2 linked regions of the Homo sapiens genome follow. Changing the gene in region 2 together with the main gene of any one other region gives a genetic interaction. Each region holds a gene or a part of one and is shown on either strand. Other genes may lie near its edges.

The links.
Region 1: of EP300 (region 2) and ELK1, changing one enhances a phenotype caused by changing the other (phenotypic enhancement), as found in Homo sapiens cells (one study listed by BioGRID).

What each region holds. Positions count from the first base shown.
Region 1 is NC_000023.11:47,643,858-47,648,461, forward strand, and holds part of ELK1 (ETS domain-containing protein Elk-1), read right to left. Parts: intron 1-4,604. UniProt on the Homo sapiens protein: Transcription factor that binds to purine-rich DNA sequences. Forms a ternary complex with SRF and the ETS and SRF motifs of the serum response element (SRE) on the promoter region of immediate early genes such as FOS and IER2.
Region 2 is NC_000022.11:41,143,672-41,148,932, forward strand, and holds part of EP300 (histone acetyltransferase p300), read left to right. Parts: intron 1-3,067; coding exon 3,068-3,145; intron 3,146-4,165; coding exon 4,166-4,275; intron 4,276-5,261. UniProt on the Homo sapiens protein: Functions as a histone acetyltransferase and regulates transcription via chromatin remodeling. Acetylates all four core histones in nucleosomes. Histone acetylation gives an epigenetic tag for transcriptional activation.

The DNA of each region.
Region 1 (4,604 bases), on a different chromosome or scaffold from region 2:
GGAGCCAGGCAGTCAGGTTCCAGTTGACTAAGCATTTCACCATTAGGCTAAACGGCCCCTCACACCGACTATTCCCTCTCAGCATGTCCTTCAAAGAACAGGATCCTCCCTGTCACCCCATTACTGCTTTCTTTCCTGAGAGCAAACTGGAAATAAACATGAGCTTCCTGTTCAATTATACAAGTCACAAAGCCATGAAGTGTCCGATTAGAGAGTCCTGTCACCAGAGACCTCACTGAATTTGTTTTGCAGGCAGGCTTGTTTCAGAAGTCCAAAGAGTTCAGAGTGACTCCTGGTGGCAAAGACAGGCAATTTTACCAGTTCTTCTTTCAGCTGCAACAGAACCTATCAGCTGAGTGAAAGGTGACGGTGGGCTTCCAGCTTCAACAGCACACAGGGCTTTGTATTTTGTTATTTCTCCCACTTGACCCCTCATAAGAGTTCTAGTAATCTGCCTTGCTTAGATATGTTTACTTCTTTCCATCTCCTTCACTTAGCAAGCATTTGGTGAGTGCATACTGTGGGCCAGGTGCTGCGGATACAGTCGAGAACGCAACAGACAACAATCCCTGCTCCAGAGGAGCTCACATCTTAGCAGGAAAGGCAGATGAGAAAAAAGGCAAACATGTACAAGAGTGCGTCAGATGGTGGTAAGGGTTATGGGAAAAAAATCAAGCAGGGGAGAGCTGTTACTTTTACATGGAGAGTCAGGGGAGAGTAGTCGCCAAGGAGGGGACAACTGGGCAGAGACCAAAAGGAGGTGAAGGAACTGAGCTCGTGAGTATCTGAGAGCAGCAAGCCAGGTGGAAGCGGCAGCCGGTGTGAAGGGCCCAAGGCTGGAGAGTGCCTGGCAGGTGACATGGGGAGAGGAGGCTGACATGGGTTCGGGGGAGAGGAGGGAGGCAGCGGGAGAGGAGAACAGAGTGACGGGGGCCAGACTGAGCCAGGCTTTTTCGGGTGCTGTCAGGATGTTGAGTGAGACAGGAGCCACAAGAGGGTTGTGAACAGAGGGATGACAGGCTGTGACTGAGATTTCAACAGGATCCCCCTGGCGGTTGTGAGAAGAACAGACTGTTGGGGCTGAAGAAGCCACTGCGGTAGATGATGGTGGTAGCAGTGGGGCTGGCGAGAAGTAGCTGGGGTCTGGAGAAAGCCTGAACACAGAATAGGACTTGCTGACAGATAGCATGCCCGGGGGAGGTGAGAGAAGGGTCCAGGGTGAGTCTAGGTTTGTGGCCTAATCACCCACAAAGACAGCATTGTGGTCAGCTGAGGTGGGAGCCTTGCAGGAGAGTAAGTTTTGAGGGGGGTCACACCAGTTTTGGAGATGGTCAGTTTCAGAGGCCTGTCAGACATCTACGGGTATGCTATGAATACATTTTAATAATTTAAAAATGCAAGCCAGGCATACGATCCTTACCGTGGGCTGCACACTCTTTGAATCATTTAACTCATTGAATCCTCAAACCACCGTTAAAGGGTGGGGATTATCATTTCCCCCATTTTCCACATGAGGCAATGGAGGTACAGAGAAGTAACCTGCCCCAAGTCACACAGCTGGAAGTTGGCAGAGCCGGAATTCAAAACCTAAGTGGTTTGGCTCTAGTGAGCAATCGCCTTACACCACCAGTTCTCCATGAAGAGAAACAGAGAAGGGTAAGATCCTAGAGAGTGACAGGAATGCTGTTTTTACACAGGGTGTACAAGGAGTTCTTCCCCAAGGAAGTGACACCTGGCCTGAAGGAGGGGAGGTAGCAAGCCAGGCTGCCCTCTGTGGGGGAGGGCCTTCAGGCGGAGCGAACGGCGTGTACAAAGGCTCTGAGGCAGCCACCCTGAACTATCTACCGTTCCCGAGACAGTTCCAACCTCTGAGGGTAAGCACGGGCTGCTCTCCCCGCAGGGAGAGCTCTTCCCTCACTTCATGGACTCAATTACACAATCATCGCATTCCAGGAAGAATTCATTCTTCCTCTGCGTGATCAAAGGTGCCAAATAACCTGCCTGCCCTTGCAAATCTGTTCTTCTTTCTGAGTCTTCAGCCTTATGTTCCTCTGCCCCTGTTCTGGCTATTCTGGCTCAAGGTTACCCTGAGCAAGTTACTCAGCCTCTCTTTGCTTGTTTCCTCATCTGTAAAATGGGGATATTTTACTCTCAAAGTCAAATATTCTCAAAAGTACACCTACCCTCCAAGGCTTCTGTGAGGATTAACTGTGTCAATTCTGTAAAATACTTCTGTAAAAGACTTGAGGGGTTGACTTTTTTTTTTGTTTTTACAAGTAGCATTGTTAGGAACTTCTTTTTTATACATGTGCCTTTGTATAGTATATTCCAAGCACCATAGTGTTTAACAATGAATATTTACTGAAATAACACTACCCAGGTGCCAGAAAATCAAATCACTCTTAGAAACATCTTTTATGCCTGTGCCTTTAGGAGAGTGTATTATGCACACCACAGTGGTTATTTTTTGGGTTTTTTTTCGGAGACGGGGATCTCACTATGTTGCACAGGCTGGCCTGGAACTCCTGGGCTCAAGTGATCCTCCCACCTCAGCCTCTGTGCCCAGCTATACACCACAGTTTTGTGAACACATTCTTTCAATGCAACAACACAGTCCTTATTCACATATACAACTAGCACTCTTAGAAACAGCTTTTATACCTGTGCCTCCATAGAGCATATTACATACCTCAGTTTTGTGAACATATCCTTTTGAAAAGGAGGAAAATCCTTATTCATATATAAACTGGCATTCTTAGAAATATCTTTGACACATGTATCTTTTTGTAGTGCATTCCAGGCACCACCGTGTGGTAAACATCCTTTGGGGGTTGGTATTTGAACAGAAAAGTGCCTCTGATGTGTGGCAGATACTCCACAGATATTAGCTATTAGCTAGTGTGTCATCCTTCTCCCCCTGCCCCTGCAATCCTATCCTATGTATCACCTGCACTATCTGGCTCCCATCACCTGTGTGACCTCACCTTCTACCCTTCCCCGCACTCTGCTCCAGCCACACTGGCCGCCTTGATGTTCCTTGAACATGGCAGGCACCATCCCACCTCAGGGCCTCTGAACTGGCACTTCCTTCTGCCTGGTATGCTCTTCCCGTAGACATTAAGGCTCTCTCCGTCTCTACCGTGAGGCCCTAATTCAAGAGTCACCTTCCCTATGCCTAAGATTTCAACCACCCCCAATACTCGATTCCTACCTGCCCTATTTCATTATTTCTTCTCAGCATTTGTCTATTATGCTAATTTTACTTATTTATTTTGTTCACATAGTCTGTCTCCCCAGCTTGGGTTTTTTTTTTTTTTTTTTTGAGACAGAGTCTCGCTCTGTCACCCATGCTGGAGTGCATGGTGCAATCTTGGCTCACTGCAACCTCCGCCTCCTGGGTTCAAGCAATTCTCCTGCCTCAGCCTCCCAAGTAACTGGGATTACAGGCGCACGCCGCCACACCCAGCTAATTTTTTTGTATTTTAGTAGAGATGGGGTTTCACCGTGATGCCCAGGCTGGTCTTGAACTCCTGAGCTCAGGCAATCCACCCACCTCAGCCTCCCAAAGTGCTAGGATTACTGGTGTTAGCCACCGTGCCCAGCCTCCCCAACTTTTAATAAATGTCAGCTCCACAAGCACAAATATTTCGCCCTGTTTCGTTCCTTGCCATATTCCAGCACCTAGAAGAGTGCCTGGTACTCACAAGGGGCTCAGTAAAGGTTGGTTGCAGGAACAGTCCCAACTAATTAGCTCTCATATCCCTTCTTCTTCCTCATGTGACCCCTACACTGGTGTCTCAAATTATCTTTTTCCCATTTATTCATGGGATAAATTCTTATTGAGCATCTGCTGTTTACCTGGTACATTTTCAGTTGCTGGAGACATAGCGGTGAATGAGCAGACAAAAACTGAGTCCTCATGGGACTCACATTCTAATGAGGAGAGACAGACAACAAACAAGTAACCCACACAGTGTGTCAGACAGTGATAAAGGGCAACGGGACAAATCAGGGACCTGGCTTGAGCCCTGCTGGGTGTGCAGCTTCAGATGGTCAGGGAGGGGTTGACTTTTTTTGTTTTTACAAGTAGCATTGTTAGGAACTTCTTTTTTATACATGTGCCTTTGTATAGTATATTCTAAGTACCATGGTGTGACAATCAACCTTTAATGAAATAACACTACCCAGGTACAACAAAATCAAATCACTCTTAGAAACATCTTTTACGCCTGTGCCTTTAAGAGAGTGTATTACACACACCACAGTGGTTGTTTTTTGGGTTTTTTTTTTTCAGAAAAAGGGATCTCGCTATATTGCCCAGGCTGGCCTGGAACTCCTGGGCTCAAGCTATCCTCCCACCTCAGCCTCCCGAGTAGCTGGGACTATAAGTGCACACCCCTGTGCCCAGCTACACACCACAGTTTTGTGAACACATTCTTTCAATGCAACAACACAGTCCTTATTCACATATACAACTAGCACTCTTAGAAACAGCTTTTATACCTATGCCTTTACAGAGCATATTACGTACCTCAGTCTTGTGAACACATCCTTTTGAAAAGGAGGAAAACCCTTACTCATATATAAACTGGCATTCTTAGAAA
Region 2 (5,261 bases):
TTCAGTTGATTCTTGTACCTCAGCATCCCCAGCAGCTGGAATTACAGGCATGCATCACCACACCTAACTAATGTTTTGTATTTTCAGTAGAGACAGGGTTTCACACCATGTTGGCCAACCTAGTCTCGAACTCCCGGCCTCAAGTGATCCGCGTACCTTGGTCTTGCAAAGTGCTGGGATTACAGGCTTGAGCCATCACACCTGGCCACGTTTGATTTTTTTGTTTTAATACAAAGAATACAGTTATTATAGAATCAGAGAGTGGCAATGGCAGGACTATGTGTATTGGCCTAAAAATATGCCCATAGTAAACTTATGTAACGTGTACCATCTTGAAAAAATAATCCCGGTTGTTAATGGAGTTGAAGGTAGGTAACTCTTTCCTTATTAATTTTTTGCAAAGATACGAAGTTTCAGGAAAAGCTGATGACAGAAGTATGCATGTTATAGTCTGAGTTTTTTTAAGTGTGGCATATGCCCTAGAAAAAGTTCTGGAAGAAGTAAATACTAATCTCTGAACATGGGCTTCTGATGGGGGCAGTGGAATTCCAGGATACTTGTGTTGTGTGATAAAGGGTTTTTGATTATTTGACTTAATGCATATAGTTTGCATTAAGGGCATATATATTGAAATGTGAAAGATGGACATTTTTGTTTGTGTATATTTTCTTTACCTCTAAATATTTATATATATACATTTTTGAGATGGGGTCTGTTTCGCCCAGCCTGGAGTGCAGTGGTGTGATCTCGGCTCACTGCATCCTCCATGCCTCCCAAGCTCAAGCAATCCTCCCACTTCAGCCCCCCAAGTAGCTGGGACCACAGGCACACGCCACCATGCCTGGCTAATTTTTTTTTATTTTTTAGTAGAAACAGGGTTTCTGTATGTTGCCCAGACTAGTCTCGAACTCCTGAGCTCAAGATATCCACCCACCTCGGCCTCCCAAAATGCTGAAATTACAGGTGTGACCCACTGCGCCCAGCCTTTAAATATTTATCTTAAAAAATAGTATCAAGATGTTCCTTTAAATAATTCATCAAGTTTCCTTAAAATGACAAGAGCTGCCTCATGGAGCAATAATAGATACATTCGTATCTGCATCATATGGGGCAAATGTGGGCAGTAGGATTGCGGTTTTATTTTTAAACCATTTTCATTTGATTAGTCTCAAATACTTAAAAATCAGAAGATTTTGCATTTAAAAAGTCTGAATTTCTGGCTGCTTTAAAAAAAAAAGGACATGTCTGGCAGACTTGACCCCCTTTCTCCTACAGTGACACCTGTCTATAGCTGCACTCATGGCTGACTCTAGAAGAGCTGTGTTTTCTCTCCACTTCAGTCCTCACCATTCTCTATTGTTTTGGGTACTTAAAACAGTTTTACTTGGTATTAGCTGCTTGGCACTTGCCATTTAGCTTGGAACACCTATCCATATTGTTGACTTGAAAAAAAAGTTACTCATATCTTAGGTGAAAACATTGTTTTGTAGATAGTGTGCGTGAATACAGATATGTGTGGGGAGGAAGAGGAAAGGTTTATCTCAAGGTCATTTGTTGGATCCTGATTCATTTTTCTATTGATTTTTAATTTTTATGTAATGAGCATGGATTATGCATATACTTCTTATAAAGCTTGCAGAGTTACAGATAAAAGTTTATATGAATAAATGTTGAGCATTTCCTCTCTCAGTTTTGCTCATTTACTAAAGGTTGAAATTTGTCTGAAGGGATGGACATCTCCTTAGAAGAGCAGCAGGTCTTCCTCTCCTATGCCTGAGGCTTGAATGTACAGCCCTTGATGGAGGGTATGGCCAGGGTGGAGCCAGGTCACTACAGACATCTGTCCTTTCCGAGGGTGCTGTAAAAATATTTTCTCTGTGCACTATGTTGAAAGTACTACACTAGAGCATGTGCAGATAATCCAGGAAAAAGACCTTAGAATTTATGTATTTATATTTTAGGTTTTTTTTGAGACGGAGTCTCGCTCTGTCGCCCAGGCTGGAGTGCAGTGGCACGATCTCAGCTTACTGCAAGCTCCACCTCCCGGGGTCATGCCCCGGGTTCACGCCATTCTCCTGCCTCAGCCTCCCGAGTAGCTGGGACTACAGGCGCCTGCCACCACGCCCGGCTATTTTTTTGTATTTTTAGTAGAGACGGGTTTCACCGTGCTATCTAGGATGGTCTCGATCTCCTGACCTCGTGATCCGCCCGCCTCGGCCTCCCAAAGTGCTGGGATTACAGGATATTTTATTTTTTTAAGAATTATTTCTGTTTTTGTATTTAAGAGGTACATGATATGTAGTGTGGTATAATATGCATATTATTTAAAATCAATGTTCACAGTTTATGTGCATAAAAACGTTGTGCTACATGATCAAATTCGGCCACCATTAGACATGATTCATAGCTATTATCCATGGAGATACTCTGTTGCATGCCAACCAGACTCAGACTTTGTTAAACAATAACATATTAAATGCTATGATGGCCTCAATTTTTTTTTTTTTTTTTGAGACAGAGTCTTGCTCCATCGCCCAGGCTGGAGTGCAGTCGTGTGATCTTGGCTCACTGCAACCTCCGCCTTCCAGGTTCATGCGATTCTCCTGCCTCAGCCTCCTGAGTAGCTGGGATTACAGGTGCCTGCCACCACGCCTGGCTAATTTTTTTGTATTTTTAGTAGAGACAGGGTTTCGCCATGTTGGCTAGGCTGGTTTTGAACTCCTGACCTCAAGTGATCCACCCACCTCAGCCTCCCAAAGTGCCAGGATTACAGGCGTGAGCCACTGTGCCTGGCCTATAATGGCTTCAATAGCTTATTTTTCTATCAACATTGAAAGCACCCGGGCTCATAAAGGAATACCAACAAATCCACTTGGAGGCATTTTTCTGTATTCCAGAAATAACATTTTCTTCAAGCTTCTGTCTAGTTCAGAGCTTTATTTTGTGATTCATACTCAATTTTCAAAGGTATTATTAAAAATATTTTGTGGGGTTTGTGTGTGCAGTGAGTTTTTGTTTGGTTAAGGGAAGATGGTGCAAAGATACTTATTTCTCTTTTTTACTCTAGATGGCCCTCTACCTGACCCAAGTATGATCCGTGGCAGTGTGCCAAACCAGATGATGCCTCGAATAACTCCACAATCTGGTAAATAGTGAAAAAAATTTTTTTATTTTAAAAGAATCCCCGGTGTACTGCAAGATAATACTTGCTACCTGAACACCCGCTTTATGCCAACAGCAAGTGTCATGATTACCTGCCCATAGAGGAAGAGGGGGTGAAGAGCAGGTTGGCTGGCAGATCACAGGGCAGGTGACATTAAATGATCAAGTATCCATTAAAAAACAACTGCAGGCTGGGCATGGTGGCTCACGCTTGTAATCCCAGCACTTTGGGAGGCCGAGGCTGGTGTACCACCTGAGGTCAAAGTACGAGACCAGCCTGGCCAATGTGGTGAAACCCTGTCTCTACTAAAAATACAAAAAAATTAGCCGGTTGTAGTGGCACGGGCCTGTAATCCCATTTACTCTGGAGGCTGAGGCTGGAGAATCACTTGAACCCAGGAGGCGGAGTTTGCAGTGAGGCGAGATCGCGCCACTGGACCCCAGCCTGAGTGACAGCAAGACTTCGTCTCAAAAAAAAAAAAAAAAGCAGATTGTAAAATTTGTAAAATTCAGTTTGGAGATCCTGTTAGTTGATAATGTCTGTTTACTGCTACTGTGAATGAGACAGATTTATTTATACTTAGAAGGTTGAAAGCCAGTTTATTAGTCCTGATAGAATCAGGGCCAGGTGCGGTGGCTCACGCCTGTAATCCCAGCACTTTGGGAGGCTGAGGCGGGCAGATCACAAGGTCAGGAGATAGAGACCATCCTGGCTAACACAGTGAAACCCCCGTCTCTACTAAAAATACAAAAAATTAGCTGGGTGTGGTGGCGGACGCCTGTAGTCCCAGCTACTCAGGAGGCTGAGGCAGGAGAATGGTGTGAACCCAGGTGGCAGAGCTTGCAGTGAGCGGAGATTGCGCCACTGCACTCCAGCCTGGGCGACAGAGCAAGACTCCGTCTCAAAAAAAAAAAAAGATACAGAATCAGACATAAGAATTCTATCTTTTATTATTCAATTTCACAAAGGCATTCAGATCTAACATTTTGCTCATATTCACAGGTTTGAATCAATTTGGCCAGATGAGCATGGCCCAGCCCCCTATTGTACCCCGGCAAACCCCTCCTCTTCAGCACCATGGACAGTTGGCTCAACCTGGAGCTCTCAACCCGGTTAGTTTGACGTCTTTGGTAATCTCTTTGGCCTTTACCTGGTATTTTGAAAATCCTGTTTGTTCCTACTTTATAAATTCTCACAGTCATTTAAACAGACCATAACTCCTAGTTCTTCTGTAATTCTTCTGTATTTAACTCTACTAGAAAGCTGACCAAAAAACGAAAACAGCCAGTCCCTTGTCCCTGGAGTGTCAGTGTTTAGTGGCCTGCATGCGTTTTCACGGTCACTTCTCTTCCCTGATGTCTGTCTTCCCTCCTCCAGGCAGAGAACTGTCTTGCAAGGTTGATGGTGCGTTTTTGCCTGGTTCTTGAACTCGGAGAAGAGAGACTAGGCTTCTCCTGCTCCTTATGCGAACTCTTAACCAGTCCATCTCTCTACCTTGACCCTAACCCTCCTGCTGCCCTTTAGAGTTAGCTGGTGCCTCTGATTCTTGACCCTTTTGGGGGTTCCTGAGCATTACTACTTCTCACTAATCTGCCATTTTCAACAGGGAGTTCTGTCCTTCATTTTAACCTATAAGACAGATGGTCTTAGCTTATGAAGTTTTTGGCCTTTGGTACTCGAGATTTCTTTCTTTAAGGCCTGAATTTGTGTAGGGTAATTTTGGAAATGACATGTAACAGTGCTAGAGCATTTGTGGACCATGAATGCTACCAGATTCTGCTACAACTTGTAAGATTTTCTTGTTTTTACATATTATGGGTCTTAGAATTTGTGTTATTACATCACTGACATGACCTCATGAAATTGTGATTAACTCTCCTCACTTAACAGAGCATGCAAAGAAAATTACCTGCTATCCTTGTGCTAGGCATATTTGTGTACCAAGAGAATGTGTGTTCCATCCTCTTACTATTTCTTGGAGTAGGCCTAGGTAAACTGTGAGGCTATTTCTCTTTATCTTGGCACAAGAGTCAGTTGTTCTACAACTTTCTTCCTTCTCCTCTTCAGCCCTCTTCACCTATACTCCTGTCTTTGGCTT